2 separate regions of the Homo sapiens genome follow, and region 1 is linked to region 2. Evidence: fine-mapped expression QTL. A gene starts in region 2. The other region holds a variant in brackets. All regions are shown on one strand. Distances are from middle to middle. Region 1 holds the start of P4HA2 (prolyl 4-hydroxylase subunit alpha 2). Region 2 holds the start of ACSL6-AS1 (ACSL6 antisense RNA 1).

The links.
Region 1: its variant is fine-mapped to the expression of ACSL6-AS1 in hippocampus (GTEx, PIP 0.98).

Annotation. Positions count from the first base shown.
Region 1 is chr5:132,221,853-132,233,434 of GRCh38, forward strand. P4HA2 (prolyl 4-hydroxylase subunit alpha 2) reads right to left here and starts at 6,001. Exons shown (of 15, transcript NM_001017974.2): 1 at 5,938-6,001. RefSeq lists silencers at 5,718-5,977, 6,118-6,347. The variant G/C (reference allele first, on the strand shown) is at 6,026.
Region 2 is chr5:131,997,496-132,009,077 of GRCh38, forward strand. It overlaps ACSL6-AS1 (ACSL6 antisense RNA 1), which reads left to right and starts at 6,078. Exons shown (of 2, transcript NR_183256.1): 1 at 6,078-6,316; 2 at 8,825-9,541. All of the region lies in intron 1 of ACSL6 (acyl-CoA synthetase long chain family member 6), which reads right to left. RefSeq lists an enhancer at 4,259-4,854 and a silencer at 10,475-10,594.

The sequences.
Region 1 (11,582 bases), 220 kb after region 2:
CCAACATCCCAGCAACAGTGATTCACCCATCAGGCGACTGGCACTGTTTCTAAACACAGGGCAATTCCAAGACATACAACCAGAGGTCCCACCAAACCTGAACTTTGGAAAAGACATTTACAATCTGGCCAAATGGCCATGAAAAGATGTTTCCAGCTGCAAACCAGCAGCGTCCTTAGCTTCTCTCCTTACCTCATCAGGCAGAATCTCTGCCAAGCTCCCAGCTGCAACCCAAATGCAACAGCCTGAGTTTTAACAATGTATTTAACAGCCTAGAGACAGAACATGAGCTTGCTGAGAACAAACTGGTCTTGCTTGGCACTGAACAAGAACCTGCCTGCCTTCTGTGAAGGGGGAAAACCTAACTGGACACGGCTCCCCGCTGCCTCCAACTCTAGGATAACAGGGCTGAAAGGACCTGTGTGTTCAGCCTAAGAGGATCCAGAGGCTCCAGGAGACCCTGCCACCAAAGCACATGGATGTCCATTCAGGCCTATAAGCTGCTGCCACGGCACCCTAGGCAAGTATGGGGGGTACCCTACTCTCCTTAGCCTCAGTCATCACCCTGATCTGAGCCACCCCTAACTTCCCCTACAGGCATCCTGGCCCCCACTACACTGGCCTCTCCACATGTCATCTGGCCTTCCTCCCACCTCTGCTCTACAAAGTAGCCAGCATGGTTTATCAAAGCCCTCCTTTGGCTCTCTACTGCCGTCAAGATAAAGTTCAAACTCTTTAGCCCAAAGGGTCCTTTTGAGTGTGTGACCAGGCCCTACTGCCCTCTCTAGCCTCATCTCACCATGCCAGGTTTCGTATCTTCAACAACTACTTTATGTGAAAAAATATTCTCCTTCACGAAGAACCTAATAAAGCCAAGATGTTTATCTGTATCTATCCACATACTTTCTCAGTCTGGTACATGAATAGTGGTTGACTTCCACTTCCCCACCTGGGTACCATCACCACCACAAAGTCTTGCTTCAGTAACTAGACAATGAAGTAGCAGAGAAGGCTGTTAAAACTGACATGCAAAAGCCAAGTTGGGTTTTCAGTCATAGTCTTGGCAGAGACTTGGCAGTCTGGATGAGACTAACCCACAAAAGGGAACTACACTTGAGGATAAAATCCATATACCACTATATTGGATGCATCTTACGTCCCACCTTGCAACCTCTTGGTCTCACCCATCTCCCAGGTCCCAGGGTATTTACTTTGCCTCAGCCCAGTGGAGGAGACTATCCAGGCCCACGCCAGAATCTCTGGCTCCTCTCACTATCTCCAGACTCTGTTGAAGTACCAGACTGGCCTCCCCAGTGGCTACCAAAGGGCCCTCATAGGGTAACCAAGTACATCTCTGTGCAGAGTAGCCAGCTTGCTAAAACACCACCTCCCATCCTCCTTTATACCTCACTTTTTTCTTTTGTTTTTTTGAGACAGTCTCGCTCTGTCGCCCAGGCTGGAGTGCAGTGGCACAATATTGGCTCAATGCAACCTCCACTTCCCAGGTTCAAGGGATTCTCCTGCCTCAGCCTCCTGAGTAGCTTGGACTACAGGTGTGTGCCACCATGCCCAGCTAATTTTTGTATTTTTAGTAGAGATGGGGTTTCACCATATTGGCCAGCTGGTCTTAAACTCCTGACCTCAGGCAATCCATCCATCTCGACCTCCCAAAGTGCTGGGATTATAGGCATGAGCCATCGCACAGGCCTGCACCTCACTTTTGTTTTCCCTCACCCTGGCTGCCCTGCAATTACACCTTCCAATAAAGCATTAAGTACTTAAGCTCTGTCTCAGGCTGTTTCCTGGGAACATAGTCTGAGATAAGCACTATTTGTTTCCAAAAATCTTTCATTTCTACTATCTAATTCTCACCCAAACCTTCTAAGCTAGATAACTACCTCCATTTCAGATATAAGATAGATACAAATGACAAACAGCTGAGGCTGAGAGAAGGTTTCCTACATATCTGACATCTGACAGCAAATCAATGACAGAACCAAGAGTCAAACCCAAAACACACTCTGCTAGATATTGCAGCTATCCAGTCCTACTCAATAATCTGTTACCTTAAAGTGCAATGGACTCCCAAACAGGGAAGCCACACTTTGCCCAGGAAGAACATGCCTGCCCAGGTTAAGGACTTTATCATGGGTTACACCAAAGGTTCATAAAGCAGGTCCATGACACGCCTGGCTGGATCTCACCAGAGGGAGGAACGCAACATGGACCCAGAAAACAGCAACATGGTCCCTTAAGTTCAGATGGGCAGTCACTCCTACCTTAGACATGACAGCACTCACAAATAACCAGCCAGTCCAGCTCAGGGCAAGGCAGTACAGTCAAATGGACAGGCACACCTGCCCTAGGGTCAGACATACTAAGAGTTAAACCCCAATTCTATACCACTTCCCGGCTTTGTGACCTTGGACAAGTTATAGGATTCCTCAGTTTCCCCATGTATATAATAGAGACAATACTAGGACCTATATCTCATAGGGCTGTTGGAGGACTGAATGTGATGACAGATGTTGGCAGGTAGCCCTGCACTAGGCATAATTTATGTCAATCATTAGTACCAAGGGCACCAGAGAAACATCAGTGGACCTGAGGCAGCCAGCTGCCCAGCCCAAGTCAGCTGATTCCTGGGTGAGAAAGAAGGTCCAGACTAGGGAACAGTGAAGATGCAAACAAGGCAGAAATTGGGCGATCTCCATGTTCCAGGAGCACCACAAGAAATGAAACATTTAATTCAGGAGAGACTGGAATCAGGTATAATGTAGTACATTGATCATCAGGGGATAACCCTGGAACTGGTCAATCACTGGCTCTAAAGCTCATCAAGCAATGTTCTCTAGCAAAAGGCGGGGGATTGGACCAATACTCTAGGAACTCATGTACTTATATGCCTCTGACCTGCTCATTCCAGGCTCCTACAAGTACCCAGGCCTGAGGATCTCCACTACACCCTGGCCCTCAGAGTGCCAGGTACAAAACAGGCCACACTCTAAGCAAGCACTTCCTGAAAGGTCCAGAGCAGATGCTGGCCTGTTACCAGGCTCAGATAGATTCCATCTGAGCTGGAGAGCACTCTACCCAAACACTTAATCCTCTGCCCTGCAATGACACCAGCTGAACAAGAACTCTCTTCTAGGGCTCCAGTAAATCATCCAGACTTTTCATTCTCCTCTGCTCTGAGGAAAAAAAAAAAAAAAAAAAACTGTCTTTCTATCTCTCATTCCATGTCCGTAACACAAAGCCCACAGACCACAGGACCTTCCAGCCCTCTTTGCTCTAGGACAGGCTGATGTCTTACCCTAAGGAACTTCAAATGTCCAAATTGCTAGATGTGAGCAACTTTCCCGAAGTTTAACTCTCACTCCAGCACTCTGCTGGGCTTGCATGTACTTGCATCACAGCTTTTCCTGCCAACTTCCATCTGCATAATAGTAAACTCTTGACAGACCCCAGGAGCCAGGGACACACCTCCTAGCCCTCTGCACACTATCAGCCAGCGTGGCCACACATCAGCCAAGGCCTTGCTTCCAGTCTCAGACCCTCCCAAGGATGTGGGAGGGCAGAGTGAAAAAGGGAGGCCTTCTTAGGAAATGAGGAGACCCTAGATTCCCTCAACCGACTCATTCCTCAGAGCTGCACCCACGTAGTCTCTTCCTTTGATGAGCACTCACAGCCGGGCTCCTCCCCTGGCACATGGCCAGCTGCCAATATGAAGCAGCAATCTCAGAGTACGAGCTACCCACAGGCAAGAATAGTGCCTCGGCCACCTCCTCTCTCTCGTCCCTCATTCTAGCCCCAGGCACGCTCCAGTCAGAAGCCAAACAGGCAGAAGGCACTCAAGGGATGAACTGAGATCAGCTGGGGCCAGTCTAAACCGGTGACTAAGTAAGCACTGTCTAGAGTACCCCAATGCAGAGCTTTCGACAGGATACAAGGGCCTATCACATGCCACAGACAATGCCTCAGCTAAGCTGTCACCAAGTCTGCCTGCTGAGCTCTCAGAGAACTAGGGTGATCCAGTATGACAGCATCTTTGGGATGAGGCCCCCAGCCAACTCACTCCATCCTTGCTACGTGGCTTCATTGGCTGGGCCACACAGTGGACACTCGGCTGTGTAAGAACAAGGAGGCCCTAAAAGAAAAGAATTCAAAGACCAAACATTCTGTGAGTGGGGAGAAGCAACCAGAGAGACTGGGCGCTGAGGCCCAGAACCACAGTGAGAGGCTGCACCTTGGACACCTCAGGGGCAGTTTAAGTACAAGCCAAAGGAAATCCTAGTTCATTTAACAGAGACTAAATTATGGAACCTAATGTCAGATGAGACACAGGCTGAGAACAAGCAGCAGACCCCAAAAACATCCTATAAATTCTTAGGTGGACAATGGATCTCCACAAAGTCTGGGACATTTAAGAATGCCCCAAGCTACAACGTAACGGACTCCAGCCCTTGCTCCTAGGACAGGATTTCCTACAAGAGGGCTGGGGCTGTGAGGCCCCAGGTAGTCTATTATCAAGAAGCACAAATCTCGGGTGTCACTCTACAGCAAAAGACAACAGTCACAGTCTTGGGAGGGATCCCAATGCTCTCCTGCACCATCTCTCTTTTTTATTTTTTTTTTAAGATGGAGTCTCGCTCTGTCTCCCAGGCTGGAGTGCAGTGGCACGATCTTGGCTCACTGCAACCTCTGCCTCCCAGGTTCAAGCGATTCTCCTGCCTTAGCCTCCCGAGTAGCTGGGACTACAGGCGCGCGCCACCATGCCCGGATAGTTTTTTGTATTCTCCTGCACCATCTTAAAGTCAAATAGAATACAAAGGCCAGGGACCCACCTGGGCTGTCCAGCAATACCTGAGGCAGGAAGTGCCCTGATCCAGGCTCCTGCTGCGAAGGTCAACTGGGCATCTTACACATGCAGGGCACAGTACCAGGCACGTTATCTCACTCCAGGGTCTTGTAGACAGCGTCCGTGGACAGCTATCCCCTACAGTGTTCCTTCCCCATCACCTTGCTTCCACTACAAGGCCATAAGGAATGGCATTGGCCAAGGTCTCTGCTCCCACTCACATAGGCTGTTCCTCTGTCCACGATGCCCTTTTGCCAGCCTTCCTCTGACCACTCCAGCTCATGGGTCACCTCCTCCGGGAAGTCCTCTGGCCGGAGGCAGTCAGTGCTCTACCAAGTACCCACTGCCCGCATTCCCTTCCAGCACAGCGCTCACCACACTGCTCTGGGCCAGGACCTTCCCGCTCTTCCAATCCGCCTGTCCCACTGGGTTAGCAACTGCTTGCGGTTTCTGGCACACAGAAGGGTCCCGTTTGTTGAATTAGTTAACGAATTATCACGGGTCTCCGCAGCTGCCAAGGAAAAACAACGCTGGTTCCACAAGGATGTCTGGGGGAGAAAAGACTTTCTGATCCAATGGCCCATCTAATGGGCTCCAAGCTGGACCCTGCCCGGACAAGACCTAGGACTCCCAGCCCTTGGGAGGGTGCAGAACGGGCTTAGCCAATATGAAGAGGCCCCTCAGGGCCAGGCGGACGCCGCGCCCCCGCTCCCAACAGCCGGCAGCCCGGGGTCAGGCCGCCACTTCCCGGGAGCCTGACAGGGAAGAGCGGCCAAGTTCCCAGCCCCGCCCGACAGCCGAGGGAACTGCACGAAGGGCGCCGCTGACCTCACCACCCTGAGCTCGGGAAGGCTTGCGGGCGGCGGCACAAGAACCCAGACGGGTGCAGAAACAGGGCGGAGGGTGCAGGGTGGCGGCCCGGACTGCGCTGCTGGCGGCTAGCGGCGCGACCCCCGGCCCCGGATCCGGCCCCGGCCCCTAACTCTCAGCCCCGCGCGGGCAGAACGCACCGCCTGGCGACCCCAGCCCGCGCCCCAGCGCTAAGGTTGATCTGGCGGCTGAGCGGGCGGGGCGCTCACCTGGACACTCGCAGCTCCCGGCGTTTCCAGAACCTCCCGCGGCGTCGCCCGGTCAGCTCGGCGCCTCCTCCCTTGGCGACTCCGCCTC[G/C]GGCCGCTGCCGGGGCTCCGCCCACTTGAGCCGCCGCCACGTCCCCACCTCACGCTCCACACGCCTGCCTGCGTCCTGGTCCCCAGCTCCGGTGGCTCCGCCGGGGTTCGCCGTCCTCTGCGACCCCTGGGAACGCCCAGGCTACCCGGCCTCGCGGGAGCCGGAGCCGGAGCCGGAGCCGGAGCTGGCCGCCCGCGCCCTTCATGCCGCCCGCAGCCCACCGCACGTACTCCGCGCCCGCCTGGCTTTGGCGCCCCCACCTGCGGGCCTTGGCCCGCCCTCCTGCCCAGCCCCTGGGCGTCTGGAGAGGTCGCCACGACCCGATCCCCTCGCCGGGGCTGTAGGGAGAGCGTCCCTGGAGGCTGACGGATTTCCCTGCCTGCGCTCATGCCCATTGCCTGGGGGGCCCTGCCGGGTACACGGGCCCCTTCTTCCCAGCACCACCACAAGGAGGCTGTTACGGGAGGCTGGGGTCACCCCGGCTAGGAACTGGGTATCAGGAGAGGAGGCAGAACAGTGGAGAAGACCCTGAGGAAGACTAGGGACCTGGGGCCCACCCCCTGGAGACCGAGATTGGGAGGCCCATTCCCAGGGCCGAGCTCTCAGTGGGTTTCAGAGAGTCCCGGGCTCTGGTCCAGGCAGTCCTGGTGGCATGTGCAGGGGTGATGGATTGATGAGAAGGGGGCCCATCAAAGGCTGGGTGGGGGCGGAGGCGGGGGGGCGGTAACAACCTGGGGCACACTGGGTTGCCCAAACCCTTCTTTATGCCATGGGCCAAAAAGAGTGGACACCTGGTTCAGCCAATCCAGTCTGGAAGGGAATAAGGACAGAGATGCAGCAAACCTCAGCCTGAGCGGGAGGAGGCCCTGGCGGCCAGGCAGGTTCCCACGCCTGCTCTGTGAACCTTCCTCTCATGAATGAGGGGAAGCACGGTCTGAGAATCTCATCAGGGAGCAAGCCCAGAGCGGGAGATGCCCAGCCTCCGCCCAGGCCCAGTGTGGATATTCCCTACGGCACACGGGCCAGGCAGGCGGCCCAGACCTGGGGAAAGCAGGAGCACGCACACGGAAATACACATAAAACATGGGTGAGCCATTGTTCCTGCCTGCGTCAGCCACCGGCTCGAGCCCGGCTAAAACTACACAAACCCTCCTGCATCTGCTACATCCACAGAAGCTTCCTTCCATCTCCTCCCCCTTCTCAGGAGTTTGCCCCATGGAACATCCCTTTTCTCTCCTGAAGGCTCAACTACCCGCTCTCAACTGGATCTTTCCCATTGGCCTGTAAATGTGTTCAAGCCTCTACTATGGGAACAAAACCCTCATTCGACCCCACTGAGTGTCTCTGTTCTCAACCGCAGCGGAATTTCTTGAAAGAGCTGTCTCCCCATCCTCACATCTCTCCCACTCTTCAGGCCCTAAAGGAGCTGTCTCTCCCACTCTTCAGGCCCTGCAGTCAGCCTTCTAGCTCCCTAACAGCACCAAACCAGGTCTCAATAAACTGTAGCCTCCAATCTCCAATTTCAACGGCTGTTCTTCAGACCTCATCTGCCAGGGCCCTGAGCAGTGTCTGACACCCAGCGATGACCACAGCCCCTCTGGAACACTGATTTCCCTTGGTTTCCCCTCATCCTTTCTGGCCACCTCTGCTCAAGCTTCTTCAGCATCCTCTCCCTATTAGTAAAGGTTGGGGGTTCCTCAAAACTCAGGTCTAGGCTTTCCACTTCACGCTTCTCTTTACACGCAGGTGACACAAATTTCTCTCTTTACCCTTATCCTTACTGCTGAACCCCAGATTCATGTAACTCACTGTTCAGTGTACATCCCCACTTGAGTGTCCACAGGCACCTCAATGGCAACATGTCCAACACAGAGTTATTGTTCTCCCCCTACATCTTCCCCCTCCACACATCCTGTCTTCACTGCTGTACTGAAGGAGATACTTCCCATCAGTTACCTAACCAGAAGCCTGGGAGTCATACTTGGCAGCTCCCTCTCCCTCATCCCCAGACCCTATTTACCTATATCCCAAGTCTGTTCAATTTTACCCCTAAATCTCCCTCTAATCCACCCACTTCTCTCCATCTTTTTCACATGAGTGATGGCAACACTTTCCTGACTGGCTGCTCCTCCATTTTTGTTCCCTCTCATCTCTCCTTCACTACAACCATGATGATCTCAAAATGCAGATCTGAGCCCATTACTTGCAGCTGGGAAATTGCCCTGATCTTGAGAAACATCAAAAAGTGGTTTATAAGGTTCCACATGGTTTGGCCTCTGCTCACTTCTGTAACCACATCGAACTTCCTCCAGTCTCTCTAACTGGCCATTCCCCCTCCCCACCCCAGACCTTTATACATGCTGTTCCTTCTGTCTAGAAAAAATTTTTCCCTCCCTGATTAAAACCTTCAGAATCCTTCAGATTCCCTCAGAGGCAGAGAGATTTTCCTTACTTCCCTGAGTAGGTCAAAACCTCCCATAACAGACCAGGCACGGTGGCTCATGCCTGTAATCCCAGCACTTTGGAAGGCTGAGGCGGACGGATCACCTGAGGTCAGGAGTTCGAGACCAGCATGGCCGACATGGTGAAACCCCGTCTCTACAACAATACAAAAATTAGCTGGGCATGGCCAGGCACGGTGGCTCACGCCTGTAATCCCAGCATTTTGGGAGGCCGAGGCGGGTGGATCACGAGTTCAGGAGATCAAGACCATCCTGGCTAACATGATGAAACCCCGTCTCTACTAAAAATACAAAAAATTAGCCGGGTGTGATGGCGCATGCCTGTAGTCCCAGCTATTCAGGAGGCTGAGGCAGGAGAATCGCATGAACCCGGGAGGCAGAGCTTGCAGTGAGCCACGCATGATGGCGGTGTCTGTAATCCCAGCTACTAGGGAGGCTGAGGTGGGAGAATCACTTGAACCCAGGAGGCAGAGGTTGCCGTAAGCCAAGATCGTGCCATTGCACTCCAGCCTGGGTGACAAGAGCAAGACTGTCTCAAAAAAAAAAAAAAAAAAACCACACACACAAAACCTCCCATAACAGCTTCTCATGTCCCCGTGTGCTTCGTAACACTTGCCACCGTTGATAGAATTGAATGATCGCTTGGGTAACGTCTTCCCCGACTGGCCTGGGAGGTCTGGGAGTACATAAACCATGCATGCATTTGTCCATTGCCATTTTCCCACCACCGAACTGGGCTCAATATTTGCTAACTCCTTGAATGGACGGATATCTCCTCAATACCTTGCTCCACACTGTAAGATTTAGTCTCCAAAGGCATGAGTAAGACCTCCGCAGGGTCTTGGAGTCCTGGCAGCTCAGGACCACAGCATTGGTCAGATATCCTCCTAAAAAATCTGCAGCCTTGAGAAGGGGCAGGACTTCTGAGGATCATGTCTCCTTGGTCTTCCTGCCTTGCAGGAAGTGGCCATTCATTTGTTTTTATATTCCTTTTCCTCTACCTGCCTCCACCCAGAAGATACCATTTCTGACCTCTGCCTTTGTAGCCTCACTTTCACCACTCAGCCCTTAACATAAGGCCCTCAGACTCCATCTGGGCTCCTGATCTATTCATTTCCTGGGGTTGCCACAACAAATTACCACGAACTAGGTGCCTTAAGTCAACAGAATTTTATTCTCTCACAGTTCTGGAGGCCAGAAGTCCAAAATCAAAATGTTACCGGGGTGTGCTCCCTCTGAAGGCTCTAGGGGCGAACCCCTCCTTGCCTCTTCCAGCTCCTGGTGGCTTAGGAGTTCCTTGGCTTGTGGCTGTATCACACGAATCTCTGCCCCATCTTCACCTGCACTTCTCCTCGGTGTCTGCATCTTCTGCCCTTCTGTTTCTTATAAAAATAACTGTCATTGGCTGTAGCGTCTACCCAGGTAATCCAGGGCAGATTGGGAGGTCTACCCAGGTAATCCAGGGAGGTTTGGCACTGAAGCCTCCCTGAATGCTGATGACTCTTGCAGGCCCTGGAACCACTGCAACAGCTCCCTTAATAACCTGTAACTTAATAATATCTGTAAGGTCCATTTTTCCAAATAAGGTCACATTCACAGGATCCAGGTAGTAGGACATGAATGCAATTTGGTGGGGTTGGGGGGCACCATTTAATCCACTACATTTGACATTCCTCCATGCCCTCAAAGGCTTCTGGACCCATGTAAATCTATCACTCAGTTTTGAATCTCCAGCCTGGGTCCACTCCAGACCCACATCGTCACAGCCTTTTCTTTATGACCACTTGATAAGTGAACTCATTGTCTCATGTAGGGTCCCCCAGGTTCCCTCACTTTTTTCTCTCTCCTGACAAATACCAAATGCCTTGACCACTCTATGACCCAGACAGCCGAAGGTTTTTTCCTGTAGGCTTGAGCCCAAGCTGGGGCCTTAAACATTCCCAGGCACTGATAAAGGTGTTTAGATGGTCGCCCGAAACACTGAAAGAAACTAGCCCCGACCCTGAGCCAAATTCCTTAAAATCTCATATAAATTCCATACCCAGACCCCCCTTGCAGCAGGCATACCTAGATAGAACATCCCTGTCTCGCTGTCTGCCTACAGGATGTACTGCAGCCCCCTCAGAGACCGAGAAATTTCCCTAATAAATGCTTTGGACTGATCACCCTGGCATTTAGTGCTACTTTCTTTGGAATCCCAACCATTTCAGGATGGTTTGGGGTAGTCCCGTATGGGGACCCCCCTGCCACTGCTTTTGGGGCATCTCCAGCTGCAGGTTCAGCCAGGATGAAACATCTCCCCCATACCACAGCCCACACCACCCAAACTGCTTCTGCCCCAGCATTTCCTACATCTCAGCAAATATCACCATCTCCCAGTCACTTCCCTTTTCTTTCCCACTGCATGCCCACCCTGGAGATCTTACCTGGTGGATCTCTCTCAGTTCACTTACTTCTTCCCAACCCTGCTGTCGCAGACCAAATTCAGGACACCACCATCTCTCACTTGGACAATCCATCTTAGCCCACTTTTCTACTCCGCTCCCTCTATCCTTACTCCATTACACAGGGCAGAGTGACATTGTAACCATGTGATTCCCATCATGTTATTTCCGTATAGAACCTCTCAAAGGTATTCCATGGACCCAAGGGTAGACACAAATCTTGCCAATGCTGCCAATCCCTTTTATCCAGCCCTGATGGTCTCTCTTCTTATGCACAGCCTCAAACTTGATGCTGCAGCCACTCCAGGCACTTTTCAGTTCCCTGGCCTTTGAATGTGTTATTCCTCCTGCCTAGAACATTCTCTTCCCAAAAGGTGGTTTCTTTCAAAAGGCTTTCTGGGTCTAGCCTGAGCCAGATCCTGCCATAGGCCCCAAAGCTCCTCATGGATGAGTTTCACACATGCTACCTGACCTCATTCAATGTCTACTTCATTTACCATTTGGCCCTCCTGGGGACTGCCTCTAACCTGTTCATCACTGTGTCTCCAGCTCTAGCATAGGGTCTGGCGCCCAGAGCCTAGAGAGGAATTGGTGAACAAAAATACATGAATGAATGAGTGGACATTCCCACTATTGTGGCCTCTAGCAGAC
Region 2 (11,582 bases):
GAGCCCAGGCCCAGGTTCAGGGGCTGGGGGAAGTGCAGGGCCACCAGAGCCTGTATGAGGGGACCAGCCAGTTGGGCCAGTCATTTGCTATCTTTCGCCATGGACATGGGTGGGCTTCTTCCTGGCCTTACATCAAGAACTCACCATCTTCTCCTGGCTGAGTCCTTCTCCTCCTACCTGGGGTGATGGAAGGCAGTGCGCAAAGGGCTTGGCTGCCCACTCCTCCTTGCAACTTCTACTTAGGTGCTCACCCTGAAGGAGGTATTTGCAGCAGTGGCAGCTCCTCTGACCTTGAGGCTGGGCCTGTACCCCACCTTGGCTGGGCAGCAACCAGAGGGTCTCGTTCTTTCAGGCTTATCGACCTTCTCAGTCAGAACTGCTTGCGTTTACACTGAGGTTCCCTTCAGACCTGGGAGCCACTGCAAGGCAGAGCTGTGAGTCCAGGTCCCCTGAGGACATGGGCCTCAGAGCCAGCCCAAGCCACCAAGCCTTTGACATGGGGAGGGCAGAGCCTAGGCCTTGGAGTCTGGTCTCATCTCATTATTTCACAGGGCCTTGGCCTCCTCTGACCTCCACACCTCTCTTTTGACCTGGGGTAGGGCTTGGTGGTCTCTAGGGTCCCAGCCATACTGCCTCCTTCCATACCCCAAGAGACTCTCTTGGCTGCAGCAGAGATGTGCATTGTGTGTGTGTCGGGGGCAAGAGGAGTGTGGACAGCACTCAAGGGAATCAGTGGTGCTGGTGTTGCCAGGTGAGTGACTGTGTTTGTAAATATTCACCTGGCAGGAGGACTCAGGCATGAACAAGCCACCTAACATGAACTAGCCACCTCCTCCTCTCTTCCTGGAATATCCGACATCTTTTTCTCCAGCACAGACCAGTTCAGAATACCAAGTGGTAGCTAAGGCTAAGGAAACTGGAACTTCCTCCCACCTCAGCATGGCCTCTGCTGATTTAGGGCAATCCAGCATGGGAGAGAACAGGAAGAAAGGGGCCCTGGTGGGAAATATGTTGGCTCCAATGTGGTGGGGTGGCAGAAGCAAAGCCCCAGAGCACAGTCACTGTGGAACTGGCCCTGGGGACCCTGACATGGCTCCAAGAACTCTCTGCTGGTCCAGCCTCCTAACCTCAATACTCTAGGCTTCATTGTCTAGCTGGATACCCGACCACTCCTCTCTACCCCAACGGCCCCAGGCCTGACAGCCACCACCAACCACAGCCCAGACTCCCATACCACCCTCTCCATAGGTCTCCTTGCTCTAACAGGTGCTTGCCCTGTTACCAAAGTTATTTCCTGATATGTAGATAGGATCATGTCATGCCACTGCTCAGAAACCTTATCTGGCTTCCTATTGCCTTAGGACCAGAGTCCAAACTAATGCTCACACTGAGGCTCTCCATGATCCTCGGATTCTTCCCTCCCCTTTGAATCACTCCAGCTTCCTCTGTATCAGCCTCTCTAATAGGGGTTCATATGATGGAGTTCTGGGCCTCTGCAAACTTCTGAGGTCTTCAAAACGGGTGGGGAAGCTCAAGCCCAGCCACCAAATCATCAAAGAATCTCCTCAACTCCAAGTGAAGAGCTCTGAAAAGAAAACTACAACCTCTCCCAGGGCCCAGGGACCCTAGCAAACGAGCTTGGGAGAGGACCCAAAGTGGGTATTCTGGGTATTCCGGTGCTGAACTGACCTGGGTCCAAATCATGACTCAGTCTCTTGATAGCTGTGTGGCCTTGGGCAGGTCACTTTGCCCCTCTGGGCCTCATCTCAAACAAGCTCATGGACAGAGAGTGCAGTGCCAGGCATGTAGTAAGGGAAACACTTAGTAGATAGCAAGTAGCTGAAGCAGTTACTCCATCTCTTTGCAAGCCAAAGGGGCTCAAAGACAACTTGCACAAGTAGATGCATTCACACCCTACCTTTCCAGCAGGCTCCTGGCACTGAGGAGGCGGCTGAGCTCGTCCCACTAGAACCAGCCTCCCTTTATAGGGCCTGTGGGGCCCAGGGAAAGAAGTTACCACATCTTGATCAAAGCACAAAAGTGGCGAAGGCCCTGCCCCGAGTCTGCCCTCCTGGGGACAGTCGATGGCAACAGCCGCCTGCTCTGAGAAGCCGGGTGGTGGTAGAGCCGTTAGCAGTGGTAGCACAGGCTCCCTGGTGGCTGTGGGAGCAGGTCTGGCAGGGAACAGGGCACACAGCAGTTCTGTAAGGAGTTGCTGGCCCCTCAAGGCCCCCGCCAGCCCCACCTCCATCTGCATGCAGGGCGGTGCTGGCTCAGATCAGCTCAGAGCCAAGCAACCCAGCCTTAACCCTCACCCTGCCAGCGTGCCAGAGCCTCAGCTTACACCCCCCTGCTTTTCCCCTCACCCCACCCTGTTTGCAGTTCTGAAAGGGAGTTTGCCAAGTGGGTTTCTTAAGAACAAAGTCTCCTTACACATCCATTTGAGACAATGATTAGGGCCAGGCCTTTGCTGTGGGCTTGGGACTGCAGTGAGCATGAGTTTATGTGTGTAGGGGGTGGGGGGTGACAGGAAGTAGTGGGGAGTAGGGGATGGGGATGCTAGCTCTCTGGCACTGAGGGCGACTGTACCATCTACCCGGGAGATTCTGCCTCCAGCCTCTCCCAGGGGCTGCCTCTGCTCCCCACCCCCACAAGGTCACAGCCAATCTACTTGGGAAGAGGAAAGAAATGGCACAGTTCCAGATAAAACATCTGCTTAGGGATGCTCTGGGGAGTGAGGACACTCTGGACCAAGGATCAGAGCCAGCAGGTGGAAGATAGTGGCTGATCTCCACCACAAGACCCCAGGGCAGCACACCAGCCCTGCTCTCATGCCTGCACTAAGAGATACTGTTGCCTAGTTTGCATGGGAATGGTCACCCTGGAGCCAGAACCCACACCCTTGCCTATTAGGACCGAAGCTGAGCTCTGAAGTCCTGCAGCACCTCTGCCAGACTGAGAGACTGAGGTCCCAGGGGCTCTCGGGGGTCTCACTACTGCAAGATCTGTGAGGCTTAGGGGTGTGGGTGGCTACTTCCATAGCATTTTCACTACTATTTCCATGGCTAACATGTGGCTGAGCACACAAGTATGATCACTGCGTATTTTGAATTGGACACTCATTCTGATCATAAGGTAGACAGCTAGACTCATGGTGGCACCTGCTAATAAGTAAAAGACAAGTCTAGGCCACAGGAGCCAGCTTACTACCACCCCCAGGCCCTACCCACATCAGGTGCTTCTGGGCAATTACGAGTCTGCCTGCACTGGGCCACTGTCCACCCAAATTTAACCCTGCTCCCTTGCTGCAAGAATGTCCCAGGACAGGACCCAGTGCTCTGAGCTCCCTCTTGAAAGCTGTTTGCCCAATTGCCTGGCAAGTCTAGAGCCCACAGGCTTGCAACACCTTCCCTGGAGCAGATAACAGCTTCCACTACTCACCCTACCATCTGGGTGAGCCATGAGAAGAGCGTCCTGCCTCAGCGACCCTCATCTGGAACTTGGCCCTAGCTTCCCCCAACCCACCCCGATTAAAATGAACGAATATCTGAGCACCCCCGATCAGCCCACAAAGTCACTTCACCTTTCTTCTAGGCAGGACCCTTACTTTTCTCCAAATATCTTCAGAGATGCTTTTAATATGAAAGCTTCCTTTAATGCTTCTCAAGGCAGCCTCTGGGGCAGGAAATCCAGTGGTCTGTGGGAAATCCCACAGAGTGCCAGAGGCATAGAGCTGAGGGAGTAGTTTCACCCCAAGCAGTGTGCAGCCCAGTTGCCAGGTTGAGAAATGCACAGCCTTCACCATCACACATGTACAACCCTGACCTGCAGAGGTGCAAACACAGCAGCGCACACTTGCCCAACACCTGCCCTCTCCACACAGGGATTCAAGCTTCTCTCTGCTGTGAGAGAAGGGTTTGCTCTCCATTTTCCTCTTGGGTTTTAATTAGATTCACAGAACCACATAAGACCAGGGCAGAAATGGAGCAAAGAGCCTCCCTGACTTGGGAATTGCCAGGTGGGACCCACTGTACATCCCCCATGAGATAGAGGCCCAGGATACGATACGGGGTTGCCAGGTTACATGGTGGCTCACCTGCCAAGCTTCCCCAAGGAGCCTGATCATAGCTCTGATGGTTCAATTAAGCCCCTTGAATGTAGAAAGGCCCAGCTAAGGCTGGCTGTGACTGAGTACTTTACAGAGCCACCTGTTGCAACTAGCCCAAGCTCACTGTGAGCATGCCTCCCTTTAGCAGCCTCCACTGCCCGCTGGCCTCCCCATCCTCATGACAGTACCTCTCAAAAATCTCACTCACCCTAAGCCCTGCTCAGGGAATGTGGGTCCACATTCCTGATGCTAGCACCAGGAAGCCAGGCACAAACAATGCTTTCAGGAACTTTAAAATATGAATAGCCTTGAGAACAGAGGAGCAAACAGATACACAGTGTCTTTCACACGCTCTGAGATAAACGTTGCCCTCACCATGAATTAGGCAGGACAAAGTTCTCAGAGCAAAGAGGGACAGCAGGGGCTAAAAAAACAGCAGTAGTCCCTTTGGAAATATTTACAGGGTATGATAACCAGGACTGATGGTGTGGACGAGTTCAGATCCTTCCACGCCAAGCCCTGGGACAGCAGGCAGGACCCTAGGAATACTGACCAGGGTCACCATCACCTCACAGGCACAGGGACACTCCCTGGCCAGGCCCTCCTGTGCAGGAAGCCAAATCCTGTGGCTGTAACACGATCCTTTGCCTTTCCGGCCATGTCCACGTTAGGACTGCTGGTGTCCCGGCCTCAGGAGCAATGATTCATTTCTGCCACTGGCTCAAACTTAGGACACACTGCAAACTAAGCTTGAACCAGTAAAGGGCATATGGGCTGCTCATGGCGAGGCCATGCACTCAGAGCTCAACTGCAGGTGGCTGGGGTACAAGCAGGATGGGATGCGACCTCCTCCAGCTAGAGGGAAGCTCCTTGAAGTAGGGAGGGTCCTGCCAATATATGGTTGGGGGTCACTGAGGTGGGGGGAGCAACAGAGGGATTTGCTTGCCTGCTTGTTCACTTAGGAGCCCTGCTGGTCTCCTGGGGACACGTGCTAGGGGAGAAATGCACAAAAGACAGAACCTGAGACATCCTTAGCCAGGGAGGGAGAACAAGGAGAGGATCCGAGCTGGGTGGGAAAGGGTAGAGAACAGGGCTATCGAAGAGGGACAGAAGTGGGTTGGTAAGTCACAGGAAGAGCCTGTAAGATGTTGGGGCCCCTGGCAGGAGCCCTCACACAGTGGCGGGAAGGAGGCAGAGGCCTGTCTGCACTGAGGACTGGGGCAGGAAGCTGAGGCTGGCAGGATGGCACTTAGCTATGGGAGAAAGGAAAAAGATGGTGATGGGTACTGTATATCTGCCTCATGCCTTCAGAGTCACAGCCCACAAGCTAATGGCACTCAGCCCTGGGGATGCAAAAGTGCCCCAGGCAAGCTGTGCTCCTACATCCTTGGCAAAGGGATTGCTGCTGCAGCCAGGATCCGGCATGGCTCCTTCACCTACCATTCCAGAGTCACTGAATTTTTTTGTAGACTAGAAAGTGAGCAAGACAAAAAGAGTTTTGCCCTTGGTTAAGGGCACATTTTCTGGCAAATTTGGTAAATAGCTGAATATTCTGGCATCCCCATAGTCTGACAAAATTCCTCTTCTGAATGCCTCAAGAAGAAACAAATCTGAATTTCCTCCAGTTTAGCAAAAGGCTGTGCTGGTCAACGGGAATCTGCCACCTCCTGAATCCCCCCTCTGGAGGTCAGGCGGCACAGCAGCTGCAGCCTTAAGCTGCTCTCCCTCCGGCAGCAAGCGGTCAAGTTCTGCTGTTGGCCTGTGAGAGCCTACAGTGTCCACAGAGTTAACATTAGACTGGAGCGGCCCAGCCCTCAGCGGGCAGGAGCACTGGGAACTCAGGCCTCCTTTTCAAGGCCAGGATGAATGGGAAATATGCAAATGGCCGCCTCCCAGGAGCGGCAGGGGAGGGCCTGCTGCTGGCAGGAGGGCATCACTCCACTTGGGTCTGTCACATGAAAGGGTTTGTATTCCTGCCGCTGGCCGGCTCCTGGCCAGGCTGGGGCTGTTCTCACCAGAAAACAAAAATGTCTTTCAGACCAAAGCAAAACGAGGCCCCAGCTGGCCCAGGCAGGCCATTGGGCGTTGTTCACACTGACCCACTATGAACACCAATCACTGGGGCTCTCACTTTGCACCCACTGGAAGGAACCCATCATCTTTGGAGACGGAACTGGAGGCCTCGGTGGCTGCTGAGGAAAGCACTACGTAAGTTCGGGGGGATGGAGGTGGGATCCAGAAAGAGGGTCAGCCCCCTCTGAGGCTCTGTTGGTTTTGTGCTTTTCGAAAACAGTAGTGGCGGAATCTGGAGTAGCACCCTTTTTTTGGATAAGGAAACTTCAGTTATTCTCACAGTGTTGATGGTAAACATGGAGAAAGAAATGGGAAGAAAAAAGTGCTGGTACACAAGAAGACCCTGCAGTGCACAGAGAGGACTTTCAATAATGGAGGGCACGTGTGTCCTCTGCCTGGTGCCCACACTCCTGCTGCCACAAGTGCCCTCGAGTGGGAGGTGGGGATAAGGGCAGCCCAGAGCCCCATGTGCGGGATCACTAGCTTCCAGGGCTGGGGCTCCTTCTTCAACCAAGGCTCCATGCCAAGGTCAGGCTTCTATCCTTTTTTTTTTTTTTTGGCTGACTTTCAGCAGCCAGAACACTGCTTCTCTGACACCCCATGGTCACCAGGAGCTGCCTATTAACCACAGCACAGACCTTGTGCCCTGTGGAGCATGGATGCCACTCAGACTCCCACTACCAGGAGAAATAGCACAGCAAGATCTCAAGCACACATGTGGCCGTTGAGCCTGAGAGGACATCTAGGACAAAACCACTTTGGAGTTGATTTTGAACCAACAGGTGGGTTGGTGGATGCTCCACAGATCTCCTGAAATCCAAGGGAGATATGTCTTGTCAGCCTCTGGGGCTAAAGGAAACTGGTATTCGTTTGGGCCACACAGTATCTTCATGAAGCCAAGGTGCCAGGCATGTCTCTGTGAGAGGTCATGGAACTGTCCAGGGAGCAGAAGCAGGAGACAGAGGAGACAGGACACTTCAGAATGACCTAGAAAAGTTGGTTCCACAGGTCATAGCCTTCCATATCTGGTCTGTGGCAAGGAGATCGGGGACACATGCACCCAAATCCCCTACCAGCCTACTGGATGGGGGAAGGCCCAACCTCCATTTCTCTCTAAACCCTCCCTGCCACCACAGACAGACCTAGGCTTAGGGGAGTTGGCCTACAGAATATGCATGAGTTGGCTGGGCATGGTGGCTCACACCTGTAATCCCAGCACTTTGGGAGGCTGAGATGGGTGGATCACCTAGATCACCTGAGGTCAGGAGTTTGAGAACAGCCTGGCCAATGTGGTGAAACCCCGTCTCTACCAAAAATACAAAAAAATTAGCCGGGTGTGGTGGCAGGCACCTGTAATCCCAGCTACATGGGAGGCTGAGGCAGGAGAATCACTTGAACCCAGGAGGCAGAGGTTGCAGTGAGCCAAGATCACGCCATTGCACTCCAGCCTGGGCAACAACAACAAAGCTCTGTCTCAAAAAAAAGAAAAAAGAAAAAAAAATGCGTGAGTTGAAGGTGTCCTCAGAGAATCACATCCAGCCCATCTGCTGGAAAGCACAGTCACGATGAACACTGAAGTTCTCCAGCCACTAAGCAGGGTCCTGGGGTCTATGTGGCTTCATGCAGCATCAGCTCTAGTGGCAGGGCAGAGTGGCCAGAGCTTCCCTTCCAAAGCAGAGGGGTCACTGCAGGCCTGGATGGGTCTCCACTGAGTCTACTTTCTCCATACTGACAATTGTCTTCCTCTCACTGGCCTAAAGGCCTTAAGGCCTTACTCCAGCCAACCTCCCTGTCCAATCTCACTGGCCGGCTCACATGCCACCTTGCTGATCTCTGTCCCAGCTCTAACTGTCCTTGCTGTGTAGCCTCTAGCTGCCCTTTCTATCCAATATCTAGTTGACCTCACTGTCTCTCCCAGTGACATTTCTGCCTGTTTATGAGGCAGGATCTGCAGTCAGTATCTAGAATGGTCTGCAGCAAAGCTAAGGCTGGGACAGGGGTGCGTGGGCAGGAGGAGTCCCACGGGGGAGTCTCAGCCCCTACAACAGTCCATGAGTTGGAGGGAAAAGCAGAGCTTTGTAGCAGAGCTGAGTCTTGATCAGTCCCTTGGAATCCACATCCTGCACTGGTGGGCCAGGCTGTGCTGAGAGTGAGGCGGGGTCCCAGGCACTGGTCAATAGGGTCTGTCCCAGAGCTGCCCAGTCAACCTGGGCCTACCTACTCACTCATTTCTCCAATAGCTATCAATTACTAAGTCTGTTCCTGGCCCTAACAGGTGCCAGCCCACATTTGCTTATACCAGGGGCTGAGCACTAAGATGCTGATTGTTCCCTCACTGGCCTGGCTTCCTGCTCTAAATTCCCAGGAGACAGTGATCTCGGAACACAAGCTTAAATGGGCAGATGGCAAATCAGAAGCCATTCCCAACTCCCCCAGACGCCCCTACTACATGCCTGGCTTAGGTGCAGGGAGAGGAAGGGTATCTCTGGGAAGAGCTGGCAAATAGGGTCAGGTGAGACTTCTTGGGATTTGAAATCCTTCTGGCTCTGAGAGTATTGGTTGGGTCTCAGAATAGATAGCTCGGCTTGGCTTGAAATTTCTGTTCCAATCCACTTCCCATCTTCCCATTTCTGCCTGTCCCAGGCCCCAAGATTCACATGAATTAGGAGCTACACAAAGGAAGTAGGCCCAGGAATAACCACACCTACCACGGATCTCCCGAGGCAGCCGAGCAAATGATGAGGAACCACCCCTGGGCATCCTGAAGGACAACCCCAAGGGCTCAAAGCAGCATCTCATCCACAGCACTCCCCTAACCCCACCAATCTGTGGACCCAGTGGATGGTTAGTGGGAACTCTGGCGAGGCCAACGCAAGGAATGGGAGCATCACACCAGACCATCCAGTGAGGTGAGGACCTTGACTGGGAATTCCTCTCATCTATGCTTGGCAGAGTGGCCCAAGCTCCCAATCTGTCAGGTGACTGGAACCTTGGAGCTCTAAGGAAGCAGCAGCCCTCAGAGAAGACTCTCTTCCACAAAACTGGTCACCCAGAAGCTGTGGGTTCACTAGTTGATTCATTCATTCATTCAACAAACACTTCTGGAGCACCTCCTTCTATTCCAGGCTGCACTGGTTCTCAGCACACAGGGTTCTCCAGTGAAGGGTAACCTGGCCCTGCCTGCAAGGAGTTTACACCTGCTTTTCCCTACTGCTTCTAACATATTGGCATCATCCCCCACCTGGGCACAGAGCCTAGCATCCTAGCAGGAGCACACTCAAAATCTGTTGTTTACTGATTGACTTGTGGTAAGGAAACAGCTTATAAAACACATTATTAAAATAAATTACGCTCAGGGAATTCTTTAGTTTATGCAATAAACTCTTATGTACCCTGTGTGCCCAACTCTGGGTTGGGGACATAGACATGAGACACCTGGCCCTGCCCTCAAGGAGACCATGGACTTGTGGAGGAGGCTTCTGGAGCACAGGAATAGTGTCACCTTGGTCATCCACATGCCCAGTTCTACCCACACCTCCTTGACATAACCGCTGCACAGAATAAAGCCAATGCTGTTTGGCCTGTTATCCTAGGCCTGCAGAGCCCACCTCTGGCAACCTCACTGGCCCAGCAGAATTGGTCCTTCAACTTCATTCAGTCCTATTGCCAATCTTCCCTCACACAGGTCCCTTGGCCTGGAATGCCTTTTCTTTTCCTACTCCCTTTCTGCATGTCAGAATCCTGGATCCCCTTTAAGGAAAGCCTAATACAAGTTATTATAATTTTAGCTAACATGGCTGGCTGATCATGCCTGGTGGTCCCTTCCTGGACTGAAAGTCTGAGAATGTGGCCTGACTCACAGCTCTTACAAGTTGCTTCACCACTGAACCTCGCTGAGTCTCAGGGCCTCACCTAGGCAATGGGGAGAACACAACACAGTGTTGTGGGAGGATGGAAGGAAAGTTTGGAGAATCATAGACAGGGTGCTTGACACATGGTAGGTGCTCAGTGAAACAACAGCCAAGTCAGCCTGTTTGCAATAGTTAATCCCATAAAAACACCCCTCCACACACACCTAGTACTTAATGAGTATTTGAGTGCCTACTATGTGCCCAGTGCTGGCTGGATACACAGTGTAGCTTCTGTTATACAAAAGCCTGTAACTTTTGCCCATTTTTATAAACAAGCCAGAGCCTCATGATCACTCACCCCATGTATGGGACAGTCCTGAGTCCCATCTGGGGCTGTAGCTGAGCCAAATTCAGCCTTCTGAAGGTCAACCCATGAATCCTTATAACCACAAGGGACAGAACAATAGCTGGAGAGCATAATGACTGGGTTCTGCTGCCCCCTGGTGTCAGTATGTTCTTACCATATAGGCTGGAGAGCTGTGAGAAGGTGCTGCGGGCAAAATCCTGCTCCATGCTGGTGCACCTTGTACAAATTCAGGCTTTCTTTGTGAGGCATGTCCCCAGCTGGCCACAGAGCCACCTGTTCTGCCTGGAGCTCTACCATCTGTCCCAATTCATAACTGCAATCTCCAAACCCCTGGGGTGGCCCTAGACCTCAAGTCAGTTCTCTGTCCTAATGGGAGCCCAGAGTGGGGTAAGGGGAGGATCTCACAGGCCTGAACTAAGCCAAAGTGTGCAAGTCTATGCTTGCCCTAGGCATCTATAGCCAGGAGCATGCCAAACCATTCTTTAGACGGGCAACTTTGTCTCGCCCCACCAGGGCCAGCCCCACTTCTCCTAAGGCAGAGGCCAGGGGTGGGGGCTTATCTCTTCTCCTTACTGGAGCCCAGCCATGACTCAAGCCATCCTTGGACCACATCTATTCTTATCCATAACATCATAACGACCTCCTACTACCCTCCTGGACTCCACTCTCTTCCTCTTGACTCAGCAGCTAAATGGAGGGATCCTCTACCATCCAAATAAAACCTTCTCCAGAATCCTCTCCCACAACCCACATTGCTCAGGCACAAGACCTTGAAGACTCATCCCCCATTGCAGTTCTTCCACAAACTCTGCTAGTCTGGCTTCCTCCACTTGGATCTTGGCCTCCCTATCTCTGACAAATTCCCCTGAATGCTGCAGAAGCCCACTCATATGTCACTGATGGTTGGGTATATGATTGAACAGATTAGACCCTGCGGCATGGGGCTGCCTTAGCCTAGAGGAAGGTGTGCCCTTTTAGAAAGTTATCCACCAAGAGTGAGACTTCTTCCTACTTTGCACAAAGGTGCTGTACAGGCAGGCAGAAGCTCTGATCCTCTGCTCCCATTGTCCTCTAGGTGTTTATGGCACTGAGGGCATGCTTCCCCAAGCCAGACCTAGCATCTGACTCATGCTGGACTTATTTTACTTGTCTCCTTGTTTAGTATTCAACACACAGGTGAGAT